Homo sapiens: one gene and its partners. The protein of the gene in region 1 purifies or fractionates together with the protein of each later gene. This does not show direct contact. Each region holds a gene or a part of one and is shown in the gene's direction. Other genes may lie near its edges. The genes, in order: PPP4R2, PTPA, DHX38 and TIPRL.

The links.
Region 2: the proteins of PPP4R2 (region 1) and PTPA purify together in Homo sapiens (affinity purification with mass spectrometry; 3 studies listed by BioGRID and IntAct, with this or other methods). This does not show direct contact.
Region 3: the proteins of PPP4R2 (region 1) and DHX38 purify together in Homo sapiens (affinity purification with mass spectrometry; 4 studies listed by BioGRID and IntAct, with this or other methods). This does not show direct contact.
Region 4: the proteins of PPP4R2 (region 1) and TIPRL purify together in Homo sapiens (affinity purification with mass spectrometry; 6 studies listed by BioGRID and IntAct, with this or other methods). This does not show direct contact.

What each region holds. Positions count from the first base shown.
Region 1 is NC_000003.12:72,991,987-72,999,825, forward strand, and holds the start of PPP4R2 (serine/threonine-protein phosphatase 4 regulatory subunit 2), read left to right. Parts: upstream 1-4,824; 5' UTR 4,825-5,051; coding exon 5,052-5,085; intron 5,086-5,120; exon of another isoform or gene 5,121-5,205; intron 5,206-6,090; coding exon 6,091-6,172; intron 6,173-7,839. UniProt on the Homo sapiens protein: Regulatory subunit of serine/threonine-protein phosphatase 4 (PP4). May regulate the activity of PPP4C at centrosomal microtubule organizing centers.
Region 2 is NC_000009.12:129,135,396-129,142,414, forward strand, and holds part of PTPA (serine/threonine-protein phosphatase 2A activator), read left to right. Parts: intron 1-1,075; coding exon 1,076-1,200; intron 1,201-2,196; coding exon 2,197-2,297; intron 2,298-7,019. UniProt on the Homo sapiens protein: PPIases accelerate the folding of proteins. It catalyzes the cis-trans isomerization of proline imidic peptide bonds in oligopeptides. Acts as a regulatory subunit for serine/threonine-protein phosphatase 2A (PP2A).
Region 3 is NC_000016.10:72,088,980-72,096,859, forward strand, and holds the start of DHX38 (pre-mRNA-splicing factor ATP-dependent RNA helicase PRP16), read left to right. Parts: upstream 1-4,867; 5' UTR 4,868-5,072; intron 5,073-5,214; exon of another isoform or gene 5,215-5,399; intron 5,400-7,159; 5' UTR 7,160-7,178; coding exon 7,179-7,501; intron 7,502-7,842; coding exon 7,843-7,880. Other genes in the region: TXNL4B (thioredoxin-like protein 4B), read right to left, coding at 8-159, 1,639-1,770. UniProt on the Homo sapiens protein: Probable ATP-binding RNA helicase. Involved in pre-mRNA splicing as component of the spliceosome.
Region 4 is NC_000001.11:168,188,958-168,195,976, forward strand, and holds part of TIPRL (TIP41-like protein), read left to right. Parts: intron 1-2,411; coding exon 2,412-2,543; intron 2,544-3,250; coding exon of another isoform or gene 3,251-3,271; exon of another isoform or gene 3,272-3,438; intron 3,439-7,019. UniProt on the Homo sapiens protein: May be a allosteric regulator of serine/threonine-protein phosphatase 2A (PP2A). Isoform 1 inhibits catalytic activity of the PP2A(D) core complex in vitro. The PP2A(C):TIPRL complex does not show phosphatase activity.

The sequences.
Region 1 (7,839 bases):
GTCCGTACAAATCTTTTCCAGTCTTTAAGTGAGACCCTTCCATCTCTTCCTGGAAGAAATTTTGCAGGCCTCTGAATATCTGATACACAGCTTTGCCTTCTACCTTGCATGAGGGCCTACACTTACATCTTATCTTTCCTAGTATTTTGCAAACTTCTTGAGGACAAGAAAGTGTTTGGGGGCTCTGAAGCCAGTCTAGGTTTGAATCATGGGTCAGTCACCTGCCTATGTAGTTGTGTGATTTTGTGCAAGCAATTTCACCTCTTTATATTTCCGTTTTCTTTCTTTCCCTTTCTTTCTTTTTCTTTCTTTCTTTTCTTTTCTTTTCCTTCTTTCCTTCCCTCCCTCCCTCCCTTCTCTCTCTCTCTCTCTCTCTCTCTCTCTTTCTTGAGTTTCGCTCTTGTCACCCAGGCTGGAGTGCAGTGGCGTGATCTTGGCTCATTGCAAGCTCTGCCTCTTGGGTTCAAGCAATTCTCCTGCCTCAGCTTCCCGAGTAGCTCGGATTACAGGCGCCCACCACCACGCCCAGCTAATTTTCATATTTTTAGTAGAGATGGGGTTTCATCACGTTGGCCAGGCTGGTCTCCAGCTTCTCACCTCAGGTGATCCACCCGCCTCGGCCTTTCAAAGTGCTGGAATTACAGGCGTGAGCCACTGTGCTGGGCCTCTATATTTCAGTTTTCTTTTCTGTTAAGTGAGGAGGATCCTCATAGGATTTTGTGAGGATTCAATTAAATACTTTTGTAAACTGCTTAGGAGACACTTTTTGATAGTTTTGTAAACTGCTTAGGAGAATGCCAGACACATGAAAGTATTTAATAAATATTAGCTGTTACTATTAAATTTCTTATTTGTTGCATTAGTTTCTAAAATTTAGAGGCTTAGAACAGTTATAGACATTGTCACCTTTTACAGTTTCTGTGGATCAGGTATTGGGAAGTGACTTAGATGGGCTGCTCTAGTGTGGGATGTCTGCTAAGGTTGTGATCCAGATGTCAGCTGGGGCTGCAGTTACCTGAAGGAATTCCTGAGGCTGGAGGATCCACCTTCAAGGACAGTTCTTCTCTCTGTGGGGCCTTTCCACAAGACTGTCTAATGTTCTCATGACATGGCAGCTGGCTTCCCCCATTGAGGCCCCATTTACCAATTCAAGAGGCCAAGGCAGAAGCCCTAGTGCCTTCACACAGACAGCTGTGATTTGGTGTGCCTGATTATACTAGGGCATGAATCTCAGCAAGTGAGGATCATGAGGGGTAATTGTGGGGGCTGGTTGCCACATTTGTATTCTGTTTTCTTCCCAGGAAATCGGCATCAGTAGGAGGCTTATTATTCTATTTTTTATTTTTGAGTCAGGGTCTCACTATGTTTGTGGCCCAGGATGGATTACAGTGGCATGATCCCGGCTCACTGCAGACTTAAATTCCTGGGCTCAAGTAATCCTCCTAGCCTCCCAAGTAGCTAGTACTACAGGTGTGCGCCACTACCCCTGGTAATTTTTTATTTTTTGTAGAGACATGTTGCTGGGCTGGTCTCAAGTGATCCTCCAGCCTTGGCTTCCCAGAGTACCGAGATTACAGGTGTGAGCCACCATGCCCAGCCAGTAGGAGGCTCTAGTAATTGCAGACATTGTGATACAGGCCGGCTGGAGAAGAATTCAAGGAAGAAGGAAGGAATGAACCAAACGAAGTTATTTTTTCAGCCTCATCTTTTGCCTCTTCTCCCCTTGTAATCTTGACTTCCAGACACTGGATAAGGTCTATGACGGGCGACAAAGTGCACACAGCAATGACAGCCTAAGGGAATCGTGGAAAGTGTACCAGAGGAAGTGGTGTTTAAGTAGAGATCTGAATTTGCAGAGGAATGTAGCAAAGTGCATTGGAGAGGAGGAGCTAACCAGAGGGGCACAAGCCTTGATTATCTGAAGACCAGGTGGGATCTGAAAAACCATAAGAAATTCAGTTAAGCTGACAGCAATGAAAGGGACAAAACAGTGTTAGAAATTAGCATAATGTGTTCTCCAACAGAAAGTTCCAATAGAACTTTTTGCAATAATGAAATTTTCTTTATCTGAACTATCCAATACAGGAGCCACTAGCCACATGTAGCTACTGAGCACTTAAAATGTGGCTGGTGTGACCAAAGAATTGGATTTTTAGGCCAGGGGCGGTGGCTCACACCTGTAATCCCAGCACTTTGGGAGGCTGCGGCGGGTGGATCACAAGGTCCAGAGTTCAAGACCAGCCTGGACAATATGGTGAAACCCCGTCTCTACTAAAAATACAAAAATTAGCTGGGCGTGGTGGTGGGAGCCTGTAATCCCAGCTACTCGAGAGGCTGAGGCAGAGAACTGCTTGAACCCGGGAGGCACAGGTTGCAGTGAGCTGAGATCACGCCACTGCACTCCAGCCTGGACGACAGAGCAAGACTCCGTCTCAAAAAAAAAAAAAGGAAAAGAAAAAAGAAAAAAAAAAGAATTGGATTTTTATTGAAGAACTCAGGAACTGAATTTTAAATTTTATTTAATTTTAATTAATTTAAATTTCAATATTCACACATGGCTAATATCTACTGTACAGCAGAGCTCTTACAGTAAGAGACCCTTCTGAATAGTAGAGTGGCAGATAGAAGGAGAGGCTAAGCTTTGCCATGTAGGCAGTAGGCCCTTTCAGACTGGAAGGGACCTGGATAAACTAAACCTGGTGCCTGGCAAGTGCTGGCCAAGTGCTTGATGTGCTACCCTATTCCCTCTCTCTGCAAGGATATTTGTAATTGAGCTAGATGCTCTGAACAACGAAGGTCTAAAGACACAGGGGACTGGTTCTCTGATGGCACAATTTGAGAGAGCTATTTTGGGTGTGAATGTCTTTTGCCTACATCTACCACCTAGGATCAGGGTCAGACCCACTGTCTTTTAAGAGGGTCAACAGTGTAAAGGCTGTGTCCAAACTTGCATCTTCTTAGACCAAACAATAACCTTCCTTCCCTCCCTTGGTCCTTCTCTCCCCTCCTTCCTTCCATGACTTTGTGCTATGCTGGGTTTTGGGAAGAGGAGGTGGAACAACGCAGTACCTTTTCTTTTCTTTCTCTCTCTCTCTTTTTTTTTTTTTTTTTTTTTTTTTTGAGACGGAGTCCCATTCTGTCGTGCCCAGGCTGGAGTACAGTGGCTGGAGTATCTCGGCTCACTGCAACCTCAGCCTCCAGGGTTCAAGGGATTCTCCTGCCTCAGCCTCCCGAGTAGCTGCGATTACAGGTGCCCGCCACCAAGCCCAGCTAATTTTTTTTTTTTTGTATTTTTAGCAGAGACAGGGTTTTGCCATGTTGGCCTGGCTGGTATCAAACTCCTGACCTCAGGTGATCCGCCTGCCTCAGACTCCCGAAGTGTTGGGAATACAGGTGTGAGCCACCGTGCCCGGGCAGTACCTTTTCTTTTAAAAGCTCACAGATGAGTATAAAAATGTCCACGCACTGGCTGGGAGCCAGATGATTTGGGTTCTGGGTTCTAGTTCTGTCTCCCCAGACTTGCTGTCTGTGACACAGCTTTCCCATTTGTAAAATGTCAGGGCTGCAGAGGACTTCTGAGGTTTCCGCCCTCTCCTACCTCCTGGGAGATTATGTCATGTAATAATGCTAACAGTGGTAATAAAAACCCAGCCACGTTGAGTGTTCCAGGTTTCACGCACTGTGCCAAATGTTTCACATTTGCCATTTCACTCAATCCTCGTGGCCGTTTTACAACCCTCATTTTATAAATAAGAACCCTGAAGCTGCCTGAGTTTAGGTAACTACTTCAGGGCCACACAAGGAGTAAGTAGTTGAGTTGGGATTTGAATATTGATTCCAAACCTTGAGCTCTTAATGACTTTGCTGTATACATTACTTCTTGCCACAGGTGGGCCAGTGACGAACGAACGTTGGGTTAAGCAGGGAGGTATTCTTGTTAGGATTATTAGCAATGCTTAGTGTATGTATGTATTGTTAATTTTATTATTATTTTTTTGAAACAGTCTCGCTTTGTCGCCTAGGCTGGAGGCAGTGGCGCGATATCGGCTCACTGCAACCTCCGCCTCCTGGATTCAAGCGATTCTCGTGCCTCAGCCTCCCGAGTAACTGGGATTACAGGCACGAGCGACCACGCCCGACTACATTTTGTATTTTTAGTAGAGACGGGGTTTCGCCATGTTGGCCAGGTTGGTCTTCAACTCCTGACTTCAGGTGCTCCGCCCGCCCCAGCCTCCCAAAGTGCTGGGATTACAGGCTTGAGTCACCGCGCCCGGCCTGTATTTATTTTTATATAGAGAAGGGCGAGGGAGCGGGGTCATTTTGTTACCCAGACTGGTCTCGAACTCCTGGGCTCAAGCGATCCTCTCGCCTCGGCCTCCCTCCCAAAGTGTTGGGATCACCGGCCTGAGCCCCCTGCCCGGCCTCGCTCTACGTTTTTTAGGCGCATTCTGAACGTGAAGTGTATACACTGAATTCTCACAGCAACTGCATAGGGCATCAGTACCAGTGCCCTTACTGTACAGATGGGGAAAATGAGGCTCAGACAGGCGAAGTAAGTAGCTTAAGTTCACACAGAGAGGAAATGGCAGGGATTCAAAGCCTAGGAGTCCGCCTGCAACCCTCTCGCCTGACCGTCCAGTCTTCAGCTCCGCGGAGCCTGGGCCTGGGGCTGGGGCTGGGGCTGAGGCTCTGGAAGCCGCCGGGACGCAGACGCCACTGGGCCCCAGCGTCACACCTCGGCCGCGCACGCGCTCTCGGGTTCCGGGCCGGAGCGCGCGGCGGGAGCGAGGACGGCGGCAGGGAGCGTGCGCGCGGTGACGTACCGGGCGCCATGTTGGAGGGTTGGTGGTAGCGGCTTGGGGAGGTGCTCGCTCTGTCGGTCTTGCTCTCTCGCACGCTTCCCCCGGCTCCCTTCGTTTCCCCCCCCCGGTCGCCTGCGTGCCGGAGTGTGTGCGAGGGAGGGGGAGGGCGTCGGGGGGGTGGGGGGAGGCGTTCCGGTCCCCAAGAGACCCGCGGAGGGAGGCGGAGGCTGTGAGGGACTCCGGGAAGCCATGGACGTCGAGAGGCTCCAGGAGGCGCTGAAAGGTGGGGGTAGCTGCCCCCTCTCCATTCCCCCTCACCTTCTCCGGCTCGCTCTTCTCTCCTTTCAGGGCGGATGGTTCCGAGGACCGGGGCCGGGCGCGGCGTGGGGAGAGTGCTTCCCGGGCTCCCATCCCCCTCCACCTCCCCAGGGGCGGGGAGCCCTGTGGGCAGCTCTCTCCCGCCCCGCTCTGGCTTTGTGTCGGCCGCCGGCGTCTGGGCTGGGGGAGGGGAGCCGGGGAAACTCTTGCGGGGGCCCCAGTCTTTCTCCCACCCGTTCAGGGGACGAGTGGCGGACCCGCAGACCCCTCCCTCCCAGATATCCTCTTTTCTCCACCAGGCTACCCGTACGCTAGGCGTTGGGGTGGGAGAAAAAGTAAACGGTTGGTGGGGGCGGGGGTAGGGGGTAGCATCGCAACTTTTAAGTTGTCTCAGTATGCCTTTTTCAGGGCTTTTGAAGTCATCTTTCCGCGCCCTAATTTCGAGGTGGTTGCCTTCACTGTTCTTGATTGCACGCCTTCCACGCAACAGGCTTGAGAACAGTGGCTTACAAACTTCGAGTAGAGAGATTTCAGCGTTTTGAGAATTATTCTTTGACATTCAGAATCATTTGGGGACGGCAACTTGGGGTAGTTGGTGCTTCTTAGAAAGGCAGATTTATGGACTTAGATGAACAATTGGTGGGAGTCGGGGCCTGGGGATTTTTATTTTCACTGGATTCCCAGCTTAATATAATGCTGGTGTTCCCCCGGACCACACTTCGAGAAGCACTGCGTTAAAAATGGTTTGTGAAGTTGAGTGCCCCCTTTAGGAGGATTCTTGTTATCTGTAAAGAGGGTGACATGTTGGAAGTAGAACTTGGAGGATTGAGGTGGTAATTTGGTTGAGAGGCCTTATTTTTTTAATTTTGTATTTAATTGATTTTTAATAAGGTAAAGGACTAGGAGGAAAGTTTGTTTTTAGAGCGCTTTTGAGAAAACTGATAACGTTTTTTTTTCTTCCTTCATCTAGATTTTGAGAAGAGGGGGAAAAAGGAAGTTTGTCCTGTCCTGGATCAGTTTCTTTGTCATGTAGCCAAGACTGGAGAAACAATGTGAGTTGAAAACATGCATTTGTCGTTATAGACCAGTGCATTATTAAGAATTGCTCAGGAAAGGGAAAAAAGTATATTTTGGGATAATTAAATAATTCATTCTAAATTGTAGAAGTCCTGGTCATTTAAATAATTTATATATTTACATTTAAAGAACGTATACGCTTACTTACTTTATACATGGTCTGTAACGGATTTTAAAAACCTGTGTATGTTAAAATTTTCTTTATAGCTAGGCTTTGGCACGCTTAGAGAATGTATTAGTCTTAACGAGCCAGAGAAAGGAAGAATGCCTATTCCATTATGACCCTTTTTGGCCATAACAAATAGGCTTATTCCTAGAATTTTGTGGCTTTGATTCTGTTTCAGAGTCTTGGTGGTATTTTCTCATATTGTCGTGTGTCCAGCCTTTTTTTGGTCATATTTGCATATGTAGGTGTTTAAAGTGTCACTTCTATTTATCGTCTGGAGGACTCTGTTATTATCTGACAAATTCCAGATGCTACAGTTTTGACTTGTAGACTTTCTAAGATAGCTGACTTGTTACATATGCTCAGCATTTTATTCAGCTCGTTTCCAAATGTTCTGAATCTGAAACTTACGCTATAAAGTTAGGGCTGTGTTCAGAAGGAACATTCCAGGTCATTGTTTTGCAGTTTGTGTGGTAGACACAATCTGGCTAAGTTTATTTGTAGACAACAGTGCATCTTTGATGACTTCTTTTTGTAGTCTTTGGGTGGGGGCTGGGGCAGCAGGAAAGGGGTAGGTTTCTATGGTTTCAATGTTAATAAGTGGGTTATCTGCCCAGTATGAGTGTAGCTTTCAGCAAGAATTGTATAATTTCTCTGGCTTTATTATTAGCAAGTGTTCATTTCTCACAAGATTTGCTTATTTGTAGTCTAGCCTTTTAACAACTAGCCTAATTTTAGAAAGAAAAAAACCTTTGCTGCCTCAGTGCTTGATTTAATGGTCATGCCTGCAAGCTGAGTCTCCTTAGTATTCTATTAAAATACACCAGTCATTTTGAGAACGTCAGTGTGATGTGTTCAATGTTGTATTTCTATTTATTACATTAAAAAATGGGACCCTCTGGGCGGGGGAAGTCATTTTTACCTTCGCATTAGGGTTTCATATAGAACATCTTGATTTAGAACAATGTAAAACTGTTAATTTGTGCTTATATAGATAAGCCTAAAAATGACCACATGCCATCTTTCAAAAATAAATTAATCCCTAAAACATAAATGCTTAGACTGCCACTATTCCTCTTGAATTGCTAGTCGGCACAGACTTAGCCCTGTCAACAATGTCAAGCCAAATAGCATTTTACTTTTGGCTGTTTTTTGATATACAAGATGATATCAAACTATTTGGAGATGAGTACTTAAAACGTCTTACTCAGTTTATCAGGTTTGTACACACTGCTTTCCCTTTTTGATAAAGTACATTGCCTATAAATGTATAAATAATTGAAAGTTTCTAAAAGATAGCTTTTTAATATCCTGTCTTACTGGAACACCAAGTGGCTGGGGAAGTTATCTGATTTTTTTTGGACAGTTATTTTATCCTGGTAGAAGAGGACTTAAAATTCCCAATCCTCCACCCCATATTCGGTGTTTATGTATTCACTAAGCATGTTTTGTACTGAAATGATTGGTGTAGTTAGA
Region 2 (7,019 bases), on another chromosome or scaffold:
AAAAAAAAGAATTGTCACATAATGTCTGCCAGTATTGACACAGTGTTGACCATATGGAGGAAGAATTCTAAGCACTTTATGTATAACTCATTAATTCTAACAACAACCCTATGAAATAGCAACTGTTATTTCCATTTTACATATGAGGAAACTGAGGCACAGAGATATCCGGTGTCTTCACTGGGTTCACGCCAGCTGAACCCAGGTAGTCAGACTCTGACCTGCTGCCCCACACCACCCAAGCCAGTCGCTGGGCAGCACTGATGTGGATCAGTTACCCAGAGCTCTTAAAATCCCCATTGCGGGCCCCAGTCTAGCAGTGCTGCTGCAGCAGGCCTGTGACGGAGCCCAGGAGCAGTGCTCGATGCTTCACAGGTGGTTGATATGCAGCCTCTGATAATATAGAAGGTTGGAACCAGAAGAACCTAGGAGATAACCTGCTGGGACTTGTGTTAGCTTTCAGACAGGCCAACTGAGGCTGGAGAGGCTGAGGCCCTGCCCAGGGTTTTACAAGTTGTCAGGAGTTGATGGCACCAAAACCCACCTTCCTAATCAGTGATTTTTTATTTATTTATTTGTTTATTTTTTTTGAGACAGGGTCTTGCTCTGTCGCCCAGGCTGGAGTGCAGTGGAGAGATCTCGGCTCACTGCAAGCTCTGCCTCCTGGGTTCATGCCATTCTCCTGCCTCAGCCTCCAGAGTAGCTGGGACCACAGGCGCCCACCACCACACCTGGCTGATTTTTTGGATTTTTAGTAGAGACGGGGTTTCACCGTGTTGGCCAGGATGGTCTCGATCTCCTGACCTTGTGATCCGCCTGCCTCGGCCTCCCAAAGTGCTGGGATTACAGGCGTGAGCCACCGTGCCCGGGCCCTTAATCAGTGATTTTTATGCCTTTCCTGAGCCAAAAGATGGCTGAGTGTTTGTTGGGGGAAATAAAGCTACATTATTGAAATTGAGACCAGTTAACACTCTTCAGTGGTTATTTTGGGGTCTCCTTGTGCTCCCAGTGGCCGAAAGGGTGAGACTGTCTTTTTACTTTTTGCTACCTTCCCTTTCCCTGTCCTCCTGTGCAGGTACCTTGAGGTTATGCGGAAACTCCAGAAAACATACAGGATGGAGCCAGCCGGCAGCCAGGGAGTGTGGGGTCTGGATGACTTCCAGTTTCTGCCCTTCATCTGGGGCAGTTCGCAGCTGATAGGTACTAGAGCGGGAGGTGCCTATCCCTCCACCCCCAACCAAGGCTGCGTTCTGTGGCCCTCCCCTGCCCCTCCTGCGCTCCCTCCTTCCCTTCTTCCTGCCCAGGGCAGACAGTGACAGCTTGGAAAGCAGGGCATTAGACCAGCTATTGAGGGAGGCTGTTTACTGTCGACCTTCTGCTGTGAGAGCCCGTGTGGTGGGCTGGAGGAGGCGGAGGCCAAGCGCCACCAAGATAATGGGAAGTGACATGGGCTGGAGCAAGGGCGCACGCCTGGTGCATAATGGACTGGTGTGAAATGCGCCCCAGCTCCTGGCAGCAGCTGTGGGGTTTTATGTTGAAAATGAGGGACCCTTTTGATTTGGTGACCAGTGTCATCCACTGTTATTATCGAGCTGTGTGCAAAGGGGCCCGTTAGGGAGCAGCCGCCAAGTGCTGGGTGGTGGGCCTGCTTCCTGTGGGGCTCAGAGAGGCCTGCTCTGGTGACTCCCCAACTCTTGAAGCTAGTTTTCAGGATGGGCGTAGGTGATCATCTCTATTTTGATGAAGAATGAACTGCCTACAGACTGATATTCATAAATGACCATTAGTTGTGGCCTCGGGTGCATTGCCTCCCCGAATCTTCTCAGTGACACTGCGAAGGGTCTGCCAGCATGAAGCCGGCTCTGCTGACTGGCACCTGCACCAGGCACCATACTGAGTGCTGTAGGTGTGGTAATTGTTGTCATGGCCCCTAGGAGGAGGTGCTCTTCTTGTCCCCAGTGTCCAGGTGAGGAAACTGAACCTTGGCAGGCTGAAGTCATGCGTCCAACGCCATGCAGCTAGAGCTTAGCACATTAGAATACACAAACCCAGAGTTACTTATTGCTCCTTCAAGGTGAGGTGTTGAGGGCACCACGGGCAGGACTGAGGCCCCTGGGGGGGTGTGACTGCTGGGCCGGGTTGCCCAGGTAGTCGTGGGGCCTGGTTCTGAATGCTGGGGCCCATTCCTTTTCCCAGACCACCCATACCTGGAGCCCAGACACTTTGTGGATGAGAAGGCCGTGAATGAGAACCACAAGGACTACATGTTCCTGGAGTGTATCCTGTTTATTACCGAGGTGAGGAGGAGGGGTGAGAGAGAAGCCCATGGCTGCCTCCAGGCTCAGATGAACCAAGGCTGGTGGCCTTACAGTGGATCAGAAGAGCCAGAGCTGCTGCCCAAAATGGCAGGGCCGGCCGGAGCGGGTTATTGAAAAGGAAGCACCACTGGGCCTCTTCCGAAAGAGCCGCTGCTGACTGTCAGGTCCTCCGCCCAGTTCTCCTTCAGTTTCTCCTGAACACCACAGGAGTCTTGAGATGAGGGTCTAAGACTTGGTCACTAACTGGCCTTGGTGACTGCTGCAGCAGGTCTGAAAGGGTCGGGGCGGGCGGAGGTTTGTGGGGGAGGGTCAGCATCTTTCGGTGGGGCCCCACAAGGGTCTGTAGAACCATGTGCTGTGGATGTGTAAAATGAAACCACCAGAGGAGATGGAGCGAACTTCTGGTGCAGACAGCTTTTCTGTCGAAGGGACACGTCTCTGTCAGTGCCTGAGGACGTGGGCCCGAGCAAAGTGCTGGAGTGGGAGTGCGCAGGCCTGGCCTGTGGTGGCAGTCACTGGATAGCCAGCCCCACGGCTGGGTTCTGGAACTGGAAGTTATTGTCTCACCAAGGCAGGATTCCTTGCAGTGGGCCCTGGACCACTTGTGCGAGATCTCCTAGTGTGTTTGTTAAAACGCACATTCCTGGGCCCTCCATCCCAGCTTATTGCATCAGAATCTTAGGGGACAAGAGCCAGGAACCTGCATCTAAACACACGTGCCAGGCGACTGCACAGGAAAGCTGGGGACCCTCTGCTCTCTGGACCTCTCTTGAGGGAGGTGTTAGGACTTCTCATCCTCTCTGCCATCCCCATGCCCCAGTTTCCAAAGGGCGCCCTCGCTCAGCTATCTGGAGAGGGTTTGAGAGTTCTATCCCTCCTCAGTCCCTTTCCCGACACCAGCACGGATGTCTGCTGCCTCAGTGAGGTTCCTAGCAGGCCTGTGGATGCTGGCCACGGGGGCTGCTCTCCGTCCGGGCTGTGTATTCTGAGCCCCCGACGAGGTGGAGAAAGCTGGGTTATAACCAGCAGCCTTGGCTCCAGGCTCTTCCTGGTCAACATTCGGCTCAGGCTTCTGCCAAACTCCAGAGGCCAGAGGGGAATGACACATTTTTTCCAAGTCAGCAAATGGAGCCGGGACTGACGGCTGGGCGGCCACCACTTCATTCCCGGAGATCTGCTGCCCTCAGCAGTGTGGCAGGCCCAAGGTCGGGAGGACTTGGGGGCAGCCTGGCTCACTGCCTTGAAAGCCAGTCACGCGCTGCTCTCTGTGGAGTGGAATGTGGGGGTCTGCGGAGCCCTGGGGGACCTCAGGATAAGCTGGAGGAGCAGGGTGGGAAGAAGGGTGCAGATGCCACACTGAGTTCTTGGGTGTGGCTGAAAGGCTGAGCTGTTTGGGCTCCCCCGGCGGCTGGCCAGGCCTCTGGGTCCCTGTCGGTATTCTAACTAGGAGGCATGCCAGGCCTGGCCTCCAGGATTTTGGGAATTGATTCCATGGTAAAATTTTGTCTTTAGTTGGTTGGTTGATTTTGTTGGTATAAACACCCCAAAAGCTTTTCCAAAGTTTGGGACCCAGTTCCTCCAGTAGAGGAAATCTCAAAGTAGCCACTAGGTGGCAGGAGAGGCACACTGAACTTGGAGAGGGTTTGGTGACATTTATTTGAGGCAGCAGAAGGAACAGGGAGGGGAGGGCGTGCCTAGAGTTGTTGGCTGTTCCGCACCTTCTCCACAGGTCCGGGTTTTCACTTTGGGTCTAGGCTCTTGGGCATGGTGTTCAACAGTAGACCCTAGGAGGAGTGTGCCCAGGAGCCGGGGTGGCTGCAGCAAGGGCCCATCTTGCCACGTGGCCGCTGGTTGCAGCACACGTTGTGTTGGTTCTCCAGAGCGCCCACCCTCTTCCACCTCGGAGCAGTGAGCAGCATTTTGCAGTCCCTAGTTGGTGAGTGGCCTGGCCTAGCTCACTGGGGACCTGGAGGCTTGCATGGAGTTCTGTACGCCTTGCTTGGGAAGGAGGCAGTGTTTCCTCTGGAGACCCTGGATTCACCATGGTGCTCTTTTAACTGGGAGATTAACTAAAACACCGAGAACTTGGGAGTGGAATCAGGCAGCCCTTTCAGGGTCTCATGCCAAGACTGCCCTGATACCCGTGGGCATCCTAGGTGAGGGACCCCACCTTGCAGGGCCTCTACAGCCTCTGTAAATGCAGCCCTGGCGCCTTTAAGAGCCCAGGGCAGGCAGGAAAAGAATTTCAGTTTCAATCTGGCTTCTAAATTTGGAGTTTTGGGAAGGGAGGGATCAGATTTCAGCTGGAAGGGAAGGAGCTGACAGGAAGGCGCTGTGCAGAGCCTCCCCACCCCCGCCCATCCCCCCAGTTACTGACAGAGGAGCCATTTACAAAAGGCCGATTCTCTGGGGAGTGGAGAGGCAGGAACGCAGCGTCTGTGAGTAATTTCCTGCTCAATATGGCTGCTCTGACTCACACGATTCCCCTGGGGTCACTGCGGGCTGCAGCTCGCTCGCTCATTCTGGTTCTTTCTCTTCTCCCTTTGTGGCTAGAATGAGCTAATTTTTTCTTTGTCTTCCAGCCCCGATTCCTTTTTCTCCCACTCGTCTGTTTTCCTTTGCCAGAGTTACAGGCAAAGGACTGTAACCTCCCTGAAGGACTTAGGGAGACCCTGGGGTACTGAAGGCCTGGGGGCAGCCTGCAGCCCCTCCAAAGAAACTACCTCTCTGGCCTTTCTGTGTGTAGGGGCCCAGGGCCACTGGAGCTCCAGGACATGGGCCTAGCCCTGGCTCTGCCAGAGGCCTTTTGAGGATCTGTTCTTTGGCCCTGGTAGGCGAGGCTGGCCAGGAGGCAGGGGCTCTTGTCTTCCAGTGCCCATCTGCCTGCCTTTGCCTCGGAGCCCTTGCCGGGCAGGCCCCTGGCAGACAAAGCCGACAAAGCCGACAGGGTGCCTCCTGGTTGCTTGCTCAGAGGGCCCTGTCCAGAGAGTGAAACTGGTTACACAGCTCCATGCTCCCTGAGCTTTCCTGGGCCTGGAAGTGTGCACAGGGCTGGAGCCTGCAGACTGGGGAAGGGGTGGGGTAGGGTGGGGAGGTGGGGGAGGGGCTGGGGGTGGAGTGTGGTTGAGCAGGGCAGTTGAAACAAAGCTCCCCAGAGGTGAGGCCCCTGTAGGCTCGGGGTGCCTGGCTGCCCTCCTGGAGGAGAGAGCCTGGGGTGATTCTGAGTGAAGCGAGTGGTCCAAGACAAGGCCCCCAGGGACCAGAGTGGGCTTTGTCTCTGTTGGGTGCCTCGGGCTCTTGCCTGGCTGTGGTGGAGCCTGGGAGAGAAGAGGAGGGGAGGGAGGAGCCTGTTGTCCTTGCTCCTGAACATGGGTGTTTGGATGGGCTTTTTGGGAACCTGGGCCAGGGGAGGGAAATGAGGGGGATAAAATGACAGGTTTTTTTTGACTTAAATCTTAAAAGTTTTGTCACAGTTGCCCTTACTAGAGAAGTAAGAGGCCTGCCAGGAGTGGGTCACCAGGTGGCAGCCCATGGCTCAAGAGTGGGGGCTCCTGAGGGCTCTTGTGGTGAACTGATGCCCCTTTTTGGAGAGCGTTTCTGGCTTATCTTTTCTCCTTCAAAAAATAACCCAGTCTCCCCTGACACCCGCATGTTTCTAGAACCTTCCAAGTCTCTGTTTCTTTGCCAGATTCAGCCTCTTTGCAGAGTCTTCCTTCTGCAGCATGGGTCTGGGGTACAGAGCCCTGTTCCCCTGTAAATGCTGCCTATGAGCTGGGGGGCTGTGTCGAGGGGAATTATGAACTGCTTGGTTAATAAATACAAATGTGCTGGACTTGCGGTGTCAGGGGGATATGCTCAGGCACACAGGCGTCCCTCTGTGGTTTCTGACGTCATGGGAACTTCATGCTGGCTGCAGAATCTTTCTCTTCCGTCCTGGAGGGTCAGACTCTTTGGCAAGAGGGAGGACCAGGAATGGAGCCGTCCTTGTGCCTGCCTCTTTCAGCTGCTGTGGCGGCCACCCCTTCCCCACCTCCTGGCCAGGCCAGGCTGGCTGCTGCTTCAGGCACCCCTGCCTCCCATCGGCCCTCTCTTCCCTGCCTGCATGGCAGGCAGAGGGCTGTCGGATACCTGGGTTTGGTCATACCCACCTTGGTCCTCTTGCAAATTGACCCTTTCCTCATCTCTTCTAGCTCTGCTGGTGGCAGGTGCAGACCACGTGTCCTGTGGGGGGGCCTGGGGGAGAGGGGGTGGGCCTGGAGGGGTGGGGCCTAGCTGCTGCTGCTATTTATCTGAACCCAAGTGAATCCCTGTGCTGGAGAGGCGCTCTGAGGCTCCTGGGGAGTCGGTGGGAACGACACCAGAAGCTCAGGTGGAGATCTTATCTTCCTGAGGCTGCTGGATTTGGTGGGCGATAGGAATCAGGCCCCCTTTTTTTGGCTGTGGGAGAAAGAGGGGTGACTGCGGGTAGGTGGGCAAGGAATGTTATATTTTCCTAGCAGGCCTTGAGGGCCAAAGGGGAACCTTGTCTCTGGCACTTGCATGTGCCTGTTTGTATGTTTGCCCCTCAGGCAGATGCTATAGCTTGGTCCCCAAGTGTCTGCGCGTGCATTGTGTGCGTGTGCGTTTGTGTGTGTGTGTGTGTGCATGCATGGGTGTGACTTTGCTGCAGGGGAGGAGGGATGAGCTCCCAGCCAGAACCTG
Region 3 (7,880 bases), on another chromosome or scaffold:
CACTTACCCATAATCCACTTTCATATGCTGCCCATTGAAGAAAAAGACAGTAGATGGAATATAACTGATGTCAAAATACTGTGTATAAACTGCAGTTTGGTCCACATCTACCAGGTATATAGCAGCCATTTTACTTAAGTCAGAAGAGGTCTTAGAAAGCTGCAAATGACGAGAGAGACAAAGGTTACAATATGAGAGGCAGCTTAATGTTTCTTCTGTGAAACTTGTTACTACAACAGAGTGTTTTGTTTGAAAAAACTCCTGGGCCAACAATGCAGCCCATGTGGCTCCCACATTAGACAAAGCATAACCCCATCCTCCAGAGTCTCATTCACTGCAACGGGGTTAGGAGGGAATCTTGGGGAAAACTGTATGAGGTTAGGAAGGGACCTTGGGGAAAACTGTGTGAGGTTAGAAGGGGACCTTGGGGAAAACTGTGTGAGTTTAGGAGGGTGACAGCATGGGAGTATTCCTGTCTATTCATTGTGGAGAGAGACCTAACCCAGAACTAAGACCTCTACCCGCCATTTCTACTGCTGCCATCCCGTGTTAAGAGCTGAGCATACAAATCCTTGGGGAAAACTGTGTGAATCTATTTCTTCCTTTAATTTCTTTCTTTGAATGCTTTTATAAAAGTAGCCCATGCTCATTTAAAACAACACAACTTAGAAATATGTTATGTGGATACTGAAATTCCCTAACGTCTCCTTCCTCCCAATCCTCCCAGAAATGAAAACCACGATAATTAGTAGCAGACACTTATATAACATTACTATGTGGTAACTGTCCTAAGTGCTTAACATTTGTTAACTCATTTAATCCTTACATCATTCTTATAAGGTATATGCTATCAGAGTCCCCATTTTATAGATAGGGAAACTGAGGCACAGGAAGGTAAAGTAATTTGCCCCAGGTCACACAGCTCCTGAGCAGTAGGGCTGGGGTTTGAACTTTGGCAGTGTGGCTTCAGTGTCTACATCACTGACCTCTGTGGTATTTCCTCCTGCTTATGACTGAGGGTAGAATCCTCTGGTCCTTTTTTCCCCAAGCTAACACATCACACCCTCATTGTAACCACGGAAATGAGGATTTGTACGCTCAGCTCTTACACGGGATGGTAGCAGTAGAAATGGCGGTAAGAGGTCTTAGTTCTGGGTTAGGTCTCTCTCTGCATCAGGCACATACTGGAGGCAGCACACTAGAAAAGATTATTTGCAGCTACAGAAAACTGAGTTCAAATCTCAACTCTGCAATATAGTGGATCTGCACCTGTGGGAAATTACTTGACCTCTCTGGTTTTTTTTTTCCTACTGGGAAATGGGGCTACTATTATCCCACTATTGCGAGCACTGAAAAGATAGTGTTCACAGATGCTTGTTAATAGTTTTCTGCTCTTCCATCACCTTGTTGGTGAAACAGCATTGACAGCTTCTAGTGGGTAAGGACATCCAAGACAGATTCAGCACACACAGATTTGGGGGCTTGGTTCAGGGCAGGCACACAATCAGCTCTTAGTGAACTAACAAATGAACAGCTATATACCCAACCCTGACTACTCCCTCTCATGTACTACTCAGATGCTGAAGTGAGAATATACAGATTATTAATAAAAACCAATTATTTTAGACATTCACTTACAATATCATCTAGCTGCAGACAGACAGGATCTTCATCTCTCCCAAACCTGAGAACCAACACCTTCTCAGCAGTACTTTTTATCGCCTGGTCTACTTCCTTTTTGCTAGTCAGCTTGGGCAGTAGGAAGCTCATCTTGAAATAACCCAAATGTGAATCCTCACTGTCACTCCTGAAATAAAGGTGCAATGTTTAAAGACAGTTTAGATTAAGTGCGTGAGCCCTCATTAAAAAAAATTAATTCACAGAGTAGCTAATGTATTCACATGGTATGAAAGAAACATCATAGAAAGGTAACACTGTGGAGTTTCCCTCTCTTTGTCCCTGCTCCTTGGAACCAGTTTTCATTGTTCCCTCCCCCGGGCCAGATAACTGCTTTCATTAGTTTCTCATGTATCTTTCAGAGTTTTGTTATGCATTCACCAAAAAATACAAATATGCGTTCCGATATTTTTTTTCTCTCTCTCCCCACCCCCAAAAGATAGCCTATTGTATCAGTGTTCCAGCAGGAAAGCGATGACACTCTCAACTTTGGTAATTTGAAGGCAGTTTAATTAAGGCAGGTGTAGAAAAACAATACGGTAAAGTGTACTACTTTGGGGCTAGTAACAGCGGGATGCTGTACCCATCCCTAGGCCATGGGAGGAAGAAGCCACGGTAGGAAGCAGTTATAAGAATTGTGTGGCAGAAAGAGGTGAGTGGAGAGGACAGTGTATAGGAGGGCAGCCTGCTGTTAGGTGTTGCAGCCACTCTCCTCCCTCCCTCTGACCTTTGCTCATGCAACCACCGGCTGACTCCAACTGGAACCAGAGGGCAGGGGCCTGTTGAGGCAGGCAAACCTCCCTGTCCCAGAGCAGTCTAGAGGAGGATGAAGAATGGCTGTGGAGGGACCAATGGCAGATGTTCAGCACACACACTTTATCTACTCTTCAGCACTTTTCATTATTTCAAACCTAACCTATGAAGATTGCCCCATATCTCTATATAGAGAACATCCATATTCTCTGTCATGGCAGCATATTATTTCTTGCATGTGTTACACTTTTTAAACAGTCCTTTATTGTATACTTTATATTATTACAAGTCCTGGCTTAAAGATTCTTCGTGTGCACCTTACTAGGTGCACCTCATTACACGGCAAACAGATCAATTAAGAGTGTGTGTGAAAACTACAATACCATAAACAAATAATAAAATACTGAGGTACAAGGGACCTAATACAACCCCGTCATTTTACAAACTAGCTTGCTTACAGTTGCACTTTCTACTACAATGACAAGGACTAGAATACAGGCCACCAAATTTCTAGTCCAGGGGTCCTTCTACTACAATAATCTATTTTCATGATTGGTAGAAATTTCATTTTTGAGAAACTCTTTGACAAAGAAGCTTAGTTTTGTGGTCATCTATAAGAGACTCCATTGAGATGGTCGGTATTTTGAATTCAGTTCCAAATATGAAAAGGGAGGATTTCTTTTCCTATTTTTTTTGTCACAAGTCACATTTTAAGATACGAATTAGGCCAGGCTCACCCCTGTAATCCCAGCACTTTGGGAGGCCAAGGAGGGTGGATCACCTATGGCCAGGAATTCGAGACCAGCCTGGCCAACATGGTGAAACCCCGTCTCTACTAAAAATACAAAAAATTAGCCGGGCGTGGTGGCAGATGCCACCTGTAATCCAAGCTACTCAGGAGGCTGAGGCAGGAGAATTGCTTGAACCCTGGAGGCGGAGGTTGCAGTGAGCTAGGATCGCTCCACTGCACTCCAGCCTGGGCAAGGCAACAAGAGCGAAGCTCCGTCTCCAAAAAAAAAAAAAGGAATTATTTAACTAAAATTCACATAGGAAATAAGATTGTTCCAGCTATAGGTCATACTTTAAACAGGGACATTGATGGCCCAAAGGGACGTCATCAGATGTGAGCAGCAGAACAAATTACCAATGAAAGGGAAGGTCAAAGAGAAGACGGATCTGTCCCACTAGAATTCAAACAAACAGCAGTTCCTCCGTGTTACTGATCGAAAGGAGAAAGTAAGGGGAGAACAAAGTTGTTAGTGGTGAGGCTAGGGGTGCAACTGGACAAACGTTGGAAGCAGGAGAGGAAAACTGAGACCACATCTAAGAAAATGTCCATAGTAAATGATACCCACAGAGAATTCCCAAAAGAAGACGTACAAATGGACAGTAAATAAACTAAAAAGTTAAGCTTTACCAGTAAGCAAAGAAAAGCAAATTAAAACATATGTTTACAAAGTCACTGAATTGGCAAAAATTAAACAAGATAGTGGTAGGGGCAGGCACAGGGAGTTCCTGCTGGAATGCAGACACAAAACCTTTCTGGAAAGAAAACTGACATACTCTTTGACCAATAACTCCACTGCTTTCCTCTCTCCCTCTCTTTTTCTGAGGCGGGGTTTCGCTATGTTGCCCAGGCTGGTCTCAACTCCCCAGGCTCAAGCAATCCTCCCGCCTCAGCCTCCCGAGTAGCTGGAACCTCAGGCGCGCGCCACAACTGCAGAAACACCAAAAAAAGAAAAAAAGCTTGAACTCACTTTTGTACAGAATCTTACTACAATGTATTCCAGAAAAACAACTGGAAATCAGTGGTCATCTCTGCGTGTGAACGCATGGGTGATTTTTATTTACAGCCGGGCGCGCATCTCCATTTTCCAAAATATCCGATATACATATTTAAAGTCACCTGTGTTGCGCTGCTCCTGGCCCACAAGCGCTAAGGGACCCCAGCACTTACCTTACTCGTCCACGCCGCCTCACTCCCTTTCACTTTGTGGCTGTCAGCAACCACTTCTCGGAAGAGCCCGGGCGCGGACAGCTCCTTTCATCAGCCCCAAGCCGGACAGGACCCTAAGACCAAGTCACCCAGGGGCTGTTGCCTAGCAACCCTCGTGGCCCCGCTAGCGGGAAGGAAACCGAACAGAAAACGCACAAGCGCAGAAAAGAAACTCCTGGCCGTCGGTCGGCCCCCGCTCAACAGCCCAATAAACGGAAGAGCTTCTAGTCACCGCCCACCTTGCTCGGCTCTGACCGGAAGCTAGGCGTCACCTCCGCCCGTATTAAAGATGGTCGACCTTTTTCCCCTCCTTTTCCTGCCCCCAGACTAGAGGCGGGATGTAGTCTCTTAGGCTAAGAGTGATTGGTCACAAGGAGACTCGGAAGTGTCTGATCAGAGCCCCAGAGGAGGCCTTGAGAGCCTGTTGGCGTACCGTTCCACACTTGGATCCAGGAATCGGGCGTGTTCCAGGCTGCTCTCTATGGTAGCTTTGGGCGGATAGAGGGGGCGCGCAAAGTATTAAGGGACAATAATGGCCGCTTTCAAGGTGTGGATTTTGGCTCCTTGAGCCTGTCTGAGCGAGGGGTGGCAGCGCCGGCGCCCCAGAATCCGGGACAGAAGGGTCCCAAGAGTCGCGCTTGGTGAGGTGAGAGTCCCTTCTTCCTTCCTGGCCTGCCCTTCTGTAATCATGGCGGCTCTAGGCGGCGGATATTGGTCCCCTGCTCAGGTCCGGGCCCCAGTTTGGGGAGTTCCTCTGTCGTCCCTGTCACCCACCTTGCCTTACTCACCTCAGGGATGCTGCATCCGTCCTGGCCGCCTTGGCCTTCCTCCTTGCTCTGGTCAAATCCTGCTGCCTGGAGCGGCCTCGCTGAGATCCAGGGATGCTGCCTGGAGTGGCCTTGGTCCCTCTCCCAGGCCTCCGCTTTAACCCACCCCAGACTGTCACCGAGCCCGAGTAGGACTCCTTGTGTCTTCCTCTGCTCTCTCACAGTGTCATTTATACCAGGCAATCTGGTGGGCGATCTCTTCTACTAGAATGTCAGCTCCAGGTGGGCGGGGATTTTTGTCTTGTTCTCTGTTGCTATCGCCGAGAACAGCAATTGGCTCAGGGACACCCTCAGTGAATAATTGTTGAATGAATGAATCCAGGTTCTTTCTTCCCTGGCTTTCTCGTACGCCTTGTAGTTTCTTTGCCATTAATCCTTCTCAAGAATCTTGCTCTTTAGCTCCTTATTTGTTCGTCTCAGCAGCTAATGAAGTTCTCTCTGGCTGTCTCCTTGTCCTGTGTTGCTGGAATCTTCCCTTGCTGTCTCCAGAAATGTTTGGGTTCCTGTCCTCCTTTAATAAGTTTAAATTAATTCATTTTTTAATTTATCAAACGCTTATTTTGCTAGACATTGAGCTACAGCAGTCAACAACACATCCAGTGTTCTCTCAACTGCGTAGAATGGCAGTCCAGGGTACCTTTCCTAGTTTAGACAACTATTGAGTAGAGCCTGTATATCTTTACCTTCTTGTGTGGATTTCCTCACATGCGCACAGATGTCACCAATATGCAGCTTTCTTTTTTTCTGTTCTGCCTGATGGCATTTTCAAAATGTAACTCTTGTTTCTGCATTAATATTATGTGTCCAGTCTGTTTGGCAATACTCTGTAGAGCTGTGCATTTAATTAGAGTTTGGTAAACAATTCTGGATTCTGGTGGCATCTCCTTTGCTTTGCTAACTTGTTGGAATGAGAGGAATTATCCAAGCATCCAGAACTGATATATGTTGATGAGTGGCAGATGTGTAGTGAGAGGTAAAGAGGAGCTTGTTCCAACTTGAGTGCCAGAAGTCTTGTAGCCACTTAAATACTTCTCAGTAACACCTTTTCCTAACCTGGTGTTTCTCATAAATATTTTTGGTGAACATGGATTGTTATTAAACTGATTTTGGCTGCTGTGAGTAAATTGTTTTCTGTAAAACGCAGCTAGGCCAAGAAAAGCCACTAAAGTATGGAGAACATGGACGGTAGCCTTCTGCCCCATCTCTGTGCTGCTGTACCTGTTGTTTAAAGAGAGGAAGAGGTAGAACTCATGTAAAAAAATGGGTGAGGGACCAACAGTATATAGGAGGATAGCAAATAATACAATGTAGCAGTTACATTTATGTTAACTGTTATGGTTACATAAAGAGCTACTCTTTATGGTTTCACATACACTTTTTGTTTGATTCTCACAATAGCTTCATGGATTAGATAAGGTAAAAATTTTTTCCATTTAATAGATATGAAATTATGGCTAAACAAAGATTAAGTTATTTGCTTACCATCATACAGGTAGAAAGTGTCAAGAGCCTGGTTTCTAATTGAGGTTTCTGATTCAAATTTAGTGGTGTTTTCCCTACATCCCTGTTACAGCTGCTGACATCAGGCTCTAGAAAGTGTCCCTTAGTGAGACTTTTTATTGCCTCTTGGATCTTTGTGGGGGCTGGGGAGGAATGTATGGGGTGTGTGTGTGTGTGTGTGTGTGTGTGTATCTATTTTGGTGTTTATTGGGGGTTGGAATAGGAGAATCTTTGGAGATAGGCAGTGACTTGATGGAAAGGTCTTGGAGAGAGGGAGCAAAAGTAGTCCTGGTCTTAAGGGGAGATGGGGAAGGTTAATCACCTACATATAACCATAACTGCATTTATTGTGGGATATAGTAGAGCTGAGCCTTCTCTAGTACCAAATGGTTTGCCTTCCTTCCAGAGAAATCCCAGATCCTGTGATGGGGGACACCAGTGAGGATGCCTCGATCCATCGATTGGAAGGCACTGATCTGGACTGTCAGGTTGGTGGTCTTATTTGCAAGTCCAAAAGTGCGGCCAGCGAGCAGCATGTCTTCAAGGCTCCTGCTCCCCGCCCTTCATTACTCGGACTGGACTTGCTGGCTTCCCTGAAACGGAGAGAGCGAGAGGAGAAGGACGATGGGGAGGACAAGAAGAAGTCCAAAGTCTCCTCCTACAAGGACTGGGAAGAGAGCAAGGATGACCAGAAGGATGCTGAGGAAGAGGGCGGTGACCAGGCTGGCCAAAATATCCGGAAAGACAGGTAAAGGCCTTAGTATGGGTTAGCCCAGAGGGAAGCGAACGGAGGCTGGAAAATAACAGCTCATGTTTATCTCTCAGTTTTCCTGTTGGAGATTTAGAGCTTTATGATTTTATTATGATTCTGTAATACTGAAGGTAGGTAGGAATTTGTGGGGAAAAACAAAGGTGAATAAAGACGAGATGGTAGAGGTTAGAAATGCCTTGGGTTGTTGCCATATGTGAGCCTGCGTCCCAGGGAGAGAAAGTGGAAAAGGACAGATCACTTGTTTGGACAGCCAAAGGTTTTAGGGCAGAGTTTTTCTCCTATGGAGGGGCCTTTACCAGTTGCTCTCCCTGTTTCAGACATTATCGGTCTGCTCGGGTAGAGACTCCATCCCATC
Region 4 (7,019 bases), on another chromosome or scaffold:
GCAACAGAGCGAGACTCTGTCTCAAGAAAAAAAAAAAAAAGTTCTGAAATCACTATAGCTCTTTAGGGTGTCATCTCTGATTTGGGAGGAAGCAGGAAATTCTCCAGGGTCCTTGTCCTTAGTGAGCACTGAGCAGTGATGGCACCAAAAGCTAGCAGAGCCCAGCTTCTTCTCTGGATCAGCCAGTGCTATGCCTCAGGGCAAAAGCCAGCCAAGTACAGACTTACTTTTCTCGGCTCCAGTCTTTCCAGATCTCAGCCCAGTAACTCCATACTGCCTTGGCCATTTGATGCTTTTAGGAAGTTTTTGGGTTTTTTTAGCCAGCTTTTTAAATTGTCTTCATCAAGAAGGTTTGTCTAGATTACTTATTCTGCCAATACTGTTCCATATGTTTTTTATTTTTTTGAGATAGAGTTTCATTCTTGTCGCCCAGGCTGGAGTGCAATGGTGTGATCTCAGCTCACTGCAACCTCTGCCCCGCGGGTTCAAGCGATTCTCCTGCCTCAGCCTCCTGAGTAGCTGGGATTACAGGTGCCTGCCACCACGATCAGCTAGTTTTTGTATTTTTAGTAGAGATGGGGTTTCACCATATTGGCTAGGCTGGTCTCAAACTCCTGACCTCAAGTGATCCGGCCGCCTTGCCTCCCAAAGTGCTGGGATTATAGGCATAAGCCACCGCGCCCAGCCCATATGTTTTATATTTAGCTGGTTATTTTTTTTTTGTTGTATTTTTTAGATCCCTGGGTTCAGAGAGAGATATGTGGAGTTGAGGAAGAGAGCTGAAAAGTATAAAGTTTTAGACATATTTAGCCTTGCAAATGGAGACAATAGCATAAATAAGTTAAATATGATATCTCTAACTCATGCTTTGTTTTTTGACTTTGTCTTTCATTTTATAAGAACAAGTACGTAAATGGAAAAACTGACAGATTCATTTTGACCAATCACTTACTGAAGGCATATGTGAAACATTAATGAAGCAATTTACTAATGAGAAAATTCAGATAATGATTAATTTTGGGGGATTCAGGAGTATCTATAAGGAGGATGTTAAAAATGTGTTCCTCTGAACTAAAATCAAATAAAAAGGACGAAATTTACAAGTGTGTGTATTTAACACTAATTTCAGTTGTGTAACCTTAGGCAGTCCTCGTTGGCAGACCAACTTTTGTTTAACTAGATCATAAACTTAATGTGTGATGCAGGGGACTGGTTATATGCCCTGCCCCTACACTCCAACTCCCTTCCCCTCCCAGTTTTCACCTCAAGAGTGGCCTTATACCTGCTCCGTACACAGTTGGAAGTAAAACTGCTTAGGGCTAAGTGTTATCTCTAAGTGACCATGGAAGAATTATGGACATTTTTTTACCTCCTGGAAATCATATACAAACTGCCACTTTCTTTTCATGGCATCTTTTCCCCCTACATTACTTAACGTTCCCTTAGATTTCCTCCCAAAATCTGTGCAGTCTTGTAAACAACATCCTTTGTAATTTTCTTCTGATTCTTATCTAGTTATCTCAAATTACTCTCCATCTGCTAATTTTGTCCATGAGTCAAAACAAATCACCTAATCATGACGCTTAAGTAAAGCTACATTTACTAAATATCTATGGTTTGACAAGCATTGTTGTGTTTGTTTATGGTAAACCTGTCAAGGAGTAAAACAGCTGAGCATTTTGTAGTGAAATTAGGTGTGGTAGAAAATAGTATCACAATTCATACTTGGGTGCTGCTCAGGAGACACTTGAGTTTAATGAGCTCCTGATATGATCTGCCTTGGGACTGTTGATGCTTTTGTTGGATTACGTGTGTGCATGTCTTAGAGCTACAAAATAATACCTTGAAAAATTGCCAACTTCATTCAAAGCTCTTTGCAATGCTAAGAGTTTCCCTCAGAATTTCTCTACAAGTTCTTGTTTACCTCATTATTTAAAGCACTTTATTTTGTTGTAGGTTTTGGGGAGTTAGGTTGAGCAAATATCTAACATTCTAATGGAAAAATATTTTTTAAGTTCCATATGAATGTCCTAAAAGTGGCTTTCACAGCACAAATGTTCTATGACCTTCTATGATAGCAGTCGTTCATCACACTGACTGATGTTTAGTTGATTAATTTTCTCATAGTCACAACAGAAGTTGATTTTAATATGACTTGCATGAAAAATGATAAATTTTTACTGCTTTTTTTGTGAAGCTATAATATTGGGCATCTGTAATGTCTTCAGTTTTCAGAATCAAGCCATATTCTGATCTTTTATATCTACTAATGACACCCAAATTTAGAACTGTGTGCTCTGGCTATGTAGAAAAGACTGATTGAAAAAGAAAAGAAAAGACTGCTTTCCTGTGTCTCTGTAGCTCCTCAACTTTTTTTTTAATGTGCTCCTCTTTAAAATTTTTTCTTTCAGGTTGTACCTACAACAGATCATATAGATACAGAAAAATTGAAAGCCAGAGAACAGATTAAGTTTTTTGAAGAAGTTCTCCTTTTTGAGGATGAACTTCATGATCATGGAGTTTCAAGCCTGAGTGTGAAGATTGTGAGTATTATTTTTATTTAAAATTAATATTTTTCTTGCATTCTTAACATCAGACAAAAATATGACTCACTTTGAATAACACTGAGCCTGGCCGGGCGCGGTGGCTCACGCCTGTAATCCCAGCACTTTGAGAGGCTGAGGCGGGCTGGATCGCCAGGTCAGGAGACCGAGACCATCCTGGCTAACACAGTGAAACCCCGTCTCTACTAAAAACACAAAAAGTTAGCTGGGCATGGTGGCGGGCGCCTGTAGTCCCAGCTACTCGGGAGGCTGAGGCAGGAGAGTAGCGTGAACCCAAGAGGCGGAGCTTGCAGTGAGCCAGGATCACGCCACTGCACTCCAGCCTGGGCGACAGAGCAAAAAAAAAAAAAAAAAAAAAAGAATAACACTGAGCTTTAACATGATGTCATGTACAATTTCACTTGAATCTAGAGTGTATCTTATTGAATATCCATTATAAAATTCACAAAATATTTGTGTATTCTTAAGGCTTTATTTTAGCAAAGCATTTTTAATAGACCTGCCTGGCCACCTTGTAGTTTATTTGTTTATTATTTAACTCTAATGAAGACTGTGGCTTAATTTTCACATTTTGGATTAAAAATGATGTTGATAGGATCTGCAGACGGCAAGGTGGATGTCATTTTTTAAAATGATCCATGTGTTATGATTTCAGTGCATCATTCAACTACCACTTCAATTTTCAGCCTGGTGGCGGGCACCTGTAGTCCCAGCTACTCGGGAGGCTGAGGCAGGAGAAGCGTGAACCCGGGAGGCGGAGCTTGCAGTGAGCTGAGATCGCACCACTGCACTCCAGCCCTCCAGCCTGGGCGACAGAGCAAGACTCCGTCTCAAAAAAAAAAAATAAAATAAAATAAAAGAAGTAGAAAACACACATAACAAGTATGGTTATTCATATTTCTTTACCACTGCATTATAATTGGGTCTCTAATACTTTCCAGAAATAACTCAACTGAAACTTTTTACTAAATGCCTCATTCTTTAAGACCCAAAGACCCAGCTAAAATACCACCTTTTCTACAAGGCCCTTCACAACTCCGTTACACAGAGTTAAATATCTCTTTTCTATACTCCTTTTTAAAAACCTCTCAATTAGGCCGGGCGCGGTGGCCCATGCCTGTAATCCCAGCACTTTGGGAGGCCGAGGCGGGCGGATCACGAGGTCAGGAGATCGAGACCATGGTGAAACCCCGTCTCTACTAAAAATACAAAAAATTAGCTGGGCGCAGTGGCGGGCGCCTGTAGTCCCAGCTACCCGGGAGGCTGAGGCAGGAGAATGGCGTGAACCCGGAAGGCAGAGCTTGCAGTGAGCCGAGATCGTGCCACTGCACTCCAGCCTGGGCAACAAGCGAGACTCCGTCTCAAAACAAACAAACAAACAAACAAAACAAACAAAAAACCTCTCAATTATAGCATTTGTCATGAGATCTGTCAAAGACAGAGACCCTAACATCAAACATTGTTCTTGGGGCATAATGATTGTGGATGCTGTGATTTAAAGAATGAAAATAATACAAAAGCAGCAACAGATTTGTTTTAAAGTCAAATTTTAGCTACTTGGGAGGCAGAAGCAGGAGGATTGCTTGAGCCCAGGAGGTCAAGGCTACAGTGAGCTATGATGGTGCCACTGCACCCCAGCTTGGGAGACAAAATAATTTTATTTTTAGATAAATAAAAAATTTTATTTTTCTTATCTAAAAATAAAATTAGTTTTTTCGGTGGAATCAAAGGATTTTGAAATTGTAGTGAATTTTTAGAGAATCATTTTTTGTAGCCTCCATATTTTATAGATAAGGCCTAAAAAGATAGCTTAAGGTCATGAAACTAATTGCAAAGTTTTCTTTGTATCATCTAATATATATCATTATTCTAGCATTAGATAGTTGTTTTCATAGGCTTTACTTCTTTGCTCACTTATAACTCTAAATTCACTTTTTTTTGTTTAGATTTATTCTCTCTTCAGTTCACCTAGTCTTGTATCTTTCCACTTGTCTACCACCTGTTGAATTGACTATGCTAAATGTTCATTATGAGTTTGCATACCTGGGTGTGCATTTGTATCCAAGGGGGTATATATATCATGTCTATAAGTGGGTCGGTATTTGGAAAGCACATGTGGTTTTGTGGATGGAGTTGCTTGAAAGGATATGTGTATAAATATGTGTGTACAAGAATACATAGTAAGTCTTAAACTGAAGAGCATTTTTTTAACCAACTACTTTAAGCTGAAGTATTAGTTCATAGATATTACTATCCTGTAGTGAAATTTGTAGATGATTTAATCCACCTACTTTGCAGCAATCAACATATTTTAACTATAAAATTAAAGGAAATTGGTTTAGAATAAAATATATTTTAATACTTAAATGCATAATATGACTGCACCAAAGACATAATGAAGCAGTCAGGTACTTATATTTGCATATTGAGTCACCGTAAATGTGACAGCAAAAAATGTAGGCTGACAGAGATGTAAGGTATCAATCAGTGACTCTTAACACAATTTTCCAAAATGATGAACAACTCTTAGTGAAGTTCTAAATAAGAAAAAGTATAATCTTTCCTTGATTTGGAAAATAGTTGACTTCCTGGATAATTGAGTGATTTTTTTTTTATTATCTATGTAAAATGGAAATAGTTTCTAAAGTCAGATCATTATAAGTAGGCTTTTTCACCTCTGTGAATGCCTGGTAAGATACTGCAAGTTTTGTGGAATGCAGGACTGGACTTTGTTGTATAGGATTGTCCTGTGCATCCCAGATCTGTCGTTCTGGTCCTTATTCACTAACTGTTGATATTGGTTGCTTATTGATGTGACAAGAAAAAGTACTCTCACAAATTCCCAAACGTCCCCTAGGAAAGAACTACTGCCCTAAAATATGCTATTGTATTGGCACTAGAGTTCTGGTCTCCTAATTCCTACTCTCTCCACTGTGCCATGCTAAAATGATATTTCAGTTTACTGCCTGTGTTGTGTCCAGTGTGACTGTTGGTAACTAATTTTGAAATTTGAAGAAATGTTGCAAGTCAGTTTTTCCATAAATTACACATATCACTGTGTAGTAATGTCAAATAATAATGATGTGCTTCTCAATTTGTTGTGACATCAAGTTGTCATAAGTCAGGTTATTTCTACAGCTTTCCTTTACTAAAAGTCTTTTTTTTAAGTCTGTTGCTGATAACCCCATCAGAATACACTTTGGCTCAGAGCCTTTTCTCCAGCAAAGGTATTAATACCTTCTAGCTTCAGTTTTATCCGGAAAATGGTTAATGAGCACCTGCTGTGTGCTAGGTACTTTTCTAAGCAATAGAGATGTGGTGATGAACAAAGCAGATATTTCCACCACCATGGAGCCTACAGTCAAGTGGAAACATAAATGAAGATAGTTACAAATCCGTTAATTCGTAATGGAGTGCTATGAGAGAGAATACCAAGATAAATCTATTGTGGTATGGAATGGTAAGAAAGGCCCCTCTGTGGAAGTGACATGTGTACTGAAATCTGAAGGACAAGTGAACATTAGCCGGGAGAATACTCCAGGTAAGGGAAGAGGGTGTGTAATGGTCCCAAGGCAGAAAAGAATTTGGCCTGTGGCTGGTGACTCTCCAGGCAGTTAAGTCACTGTCATTACTGGGTTATCCTGTTATTTCTTCTTTCATCATTAATGTAGCCCTGTGCTTATATGTAAGATTATAGGCAGTTCCCTGAATATATGTTATTATTTCATGTCTCAGTACTTTTTGTACATGCAGGTCCCCTTTCTGAAATTCTCCTTCCCATCTCTAGCTGTTCTTTCTGTGGTCAGCTCAAGCCTTGTCTTATCTGATGTTCTTCAGCAGACTTAGGTACTTCTTTCTCAAATGCTTATTGAGCCTTGTGCATACCCATTATAGCAGCTACCACATCTGTTTGACCTTTCCCTGGCTGATAACCTTTTTGAGCATTGGGATTCTATTTTTTCATTTATATAAATCCAAGACTTACTATAGTAAGAACTTGGTGTTAGTAGACAATAGGTATTTATTCAGCAAATGGCCAAGCATATTCATTTTAATTAATTAATTAATTTTGGGACAGGGTCTTGCTCTGTTGCCCAGGCTGGAGTGCAGTGTTACAATCATGGCTCACTGCAGCCTATCTCCCAGGCCCAAGCCATCCTCCCAGCTTAGCCTTCCACGTAGCTAGGACTACAGGCTTGTGCCACCGTGCTTTGCTAATTTTTTGTATTTTTTGTAGAGATGGGGTCTGACTCTGTTGCCCAGGCTGGTCTTGAACTCCTGGGCTCAAGTGATCTTTCCACCTCAACCTTCCAAACTGCTGTGATTATAGGTGTGAGCCACCATGCCAGCTAAACATATTCATTTTAAAGACCCAAATACCTCACATTCCATTCAACCGCTCTCTCCCCGCCACCAGGACCCACCTTCATACTTTCTCCACTGATTCTGCCTATC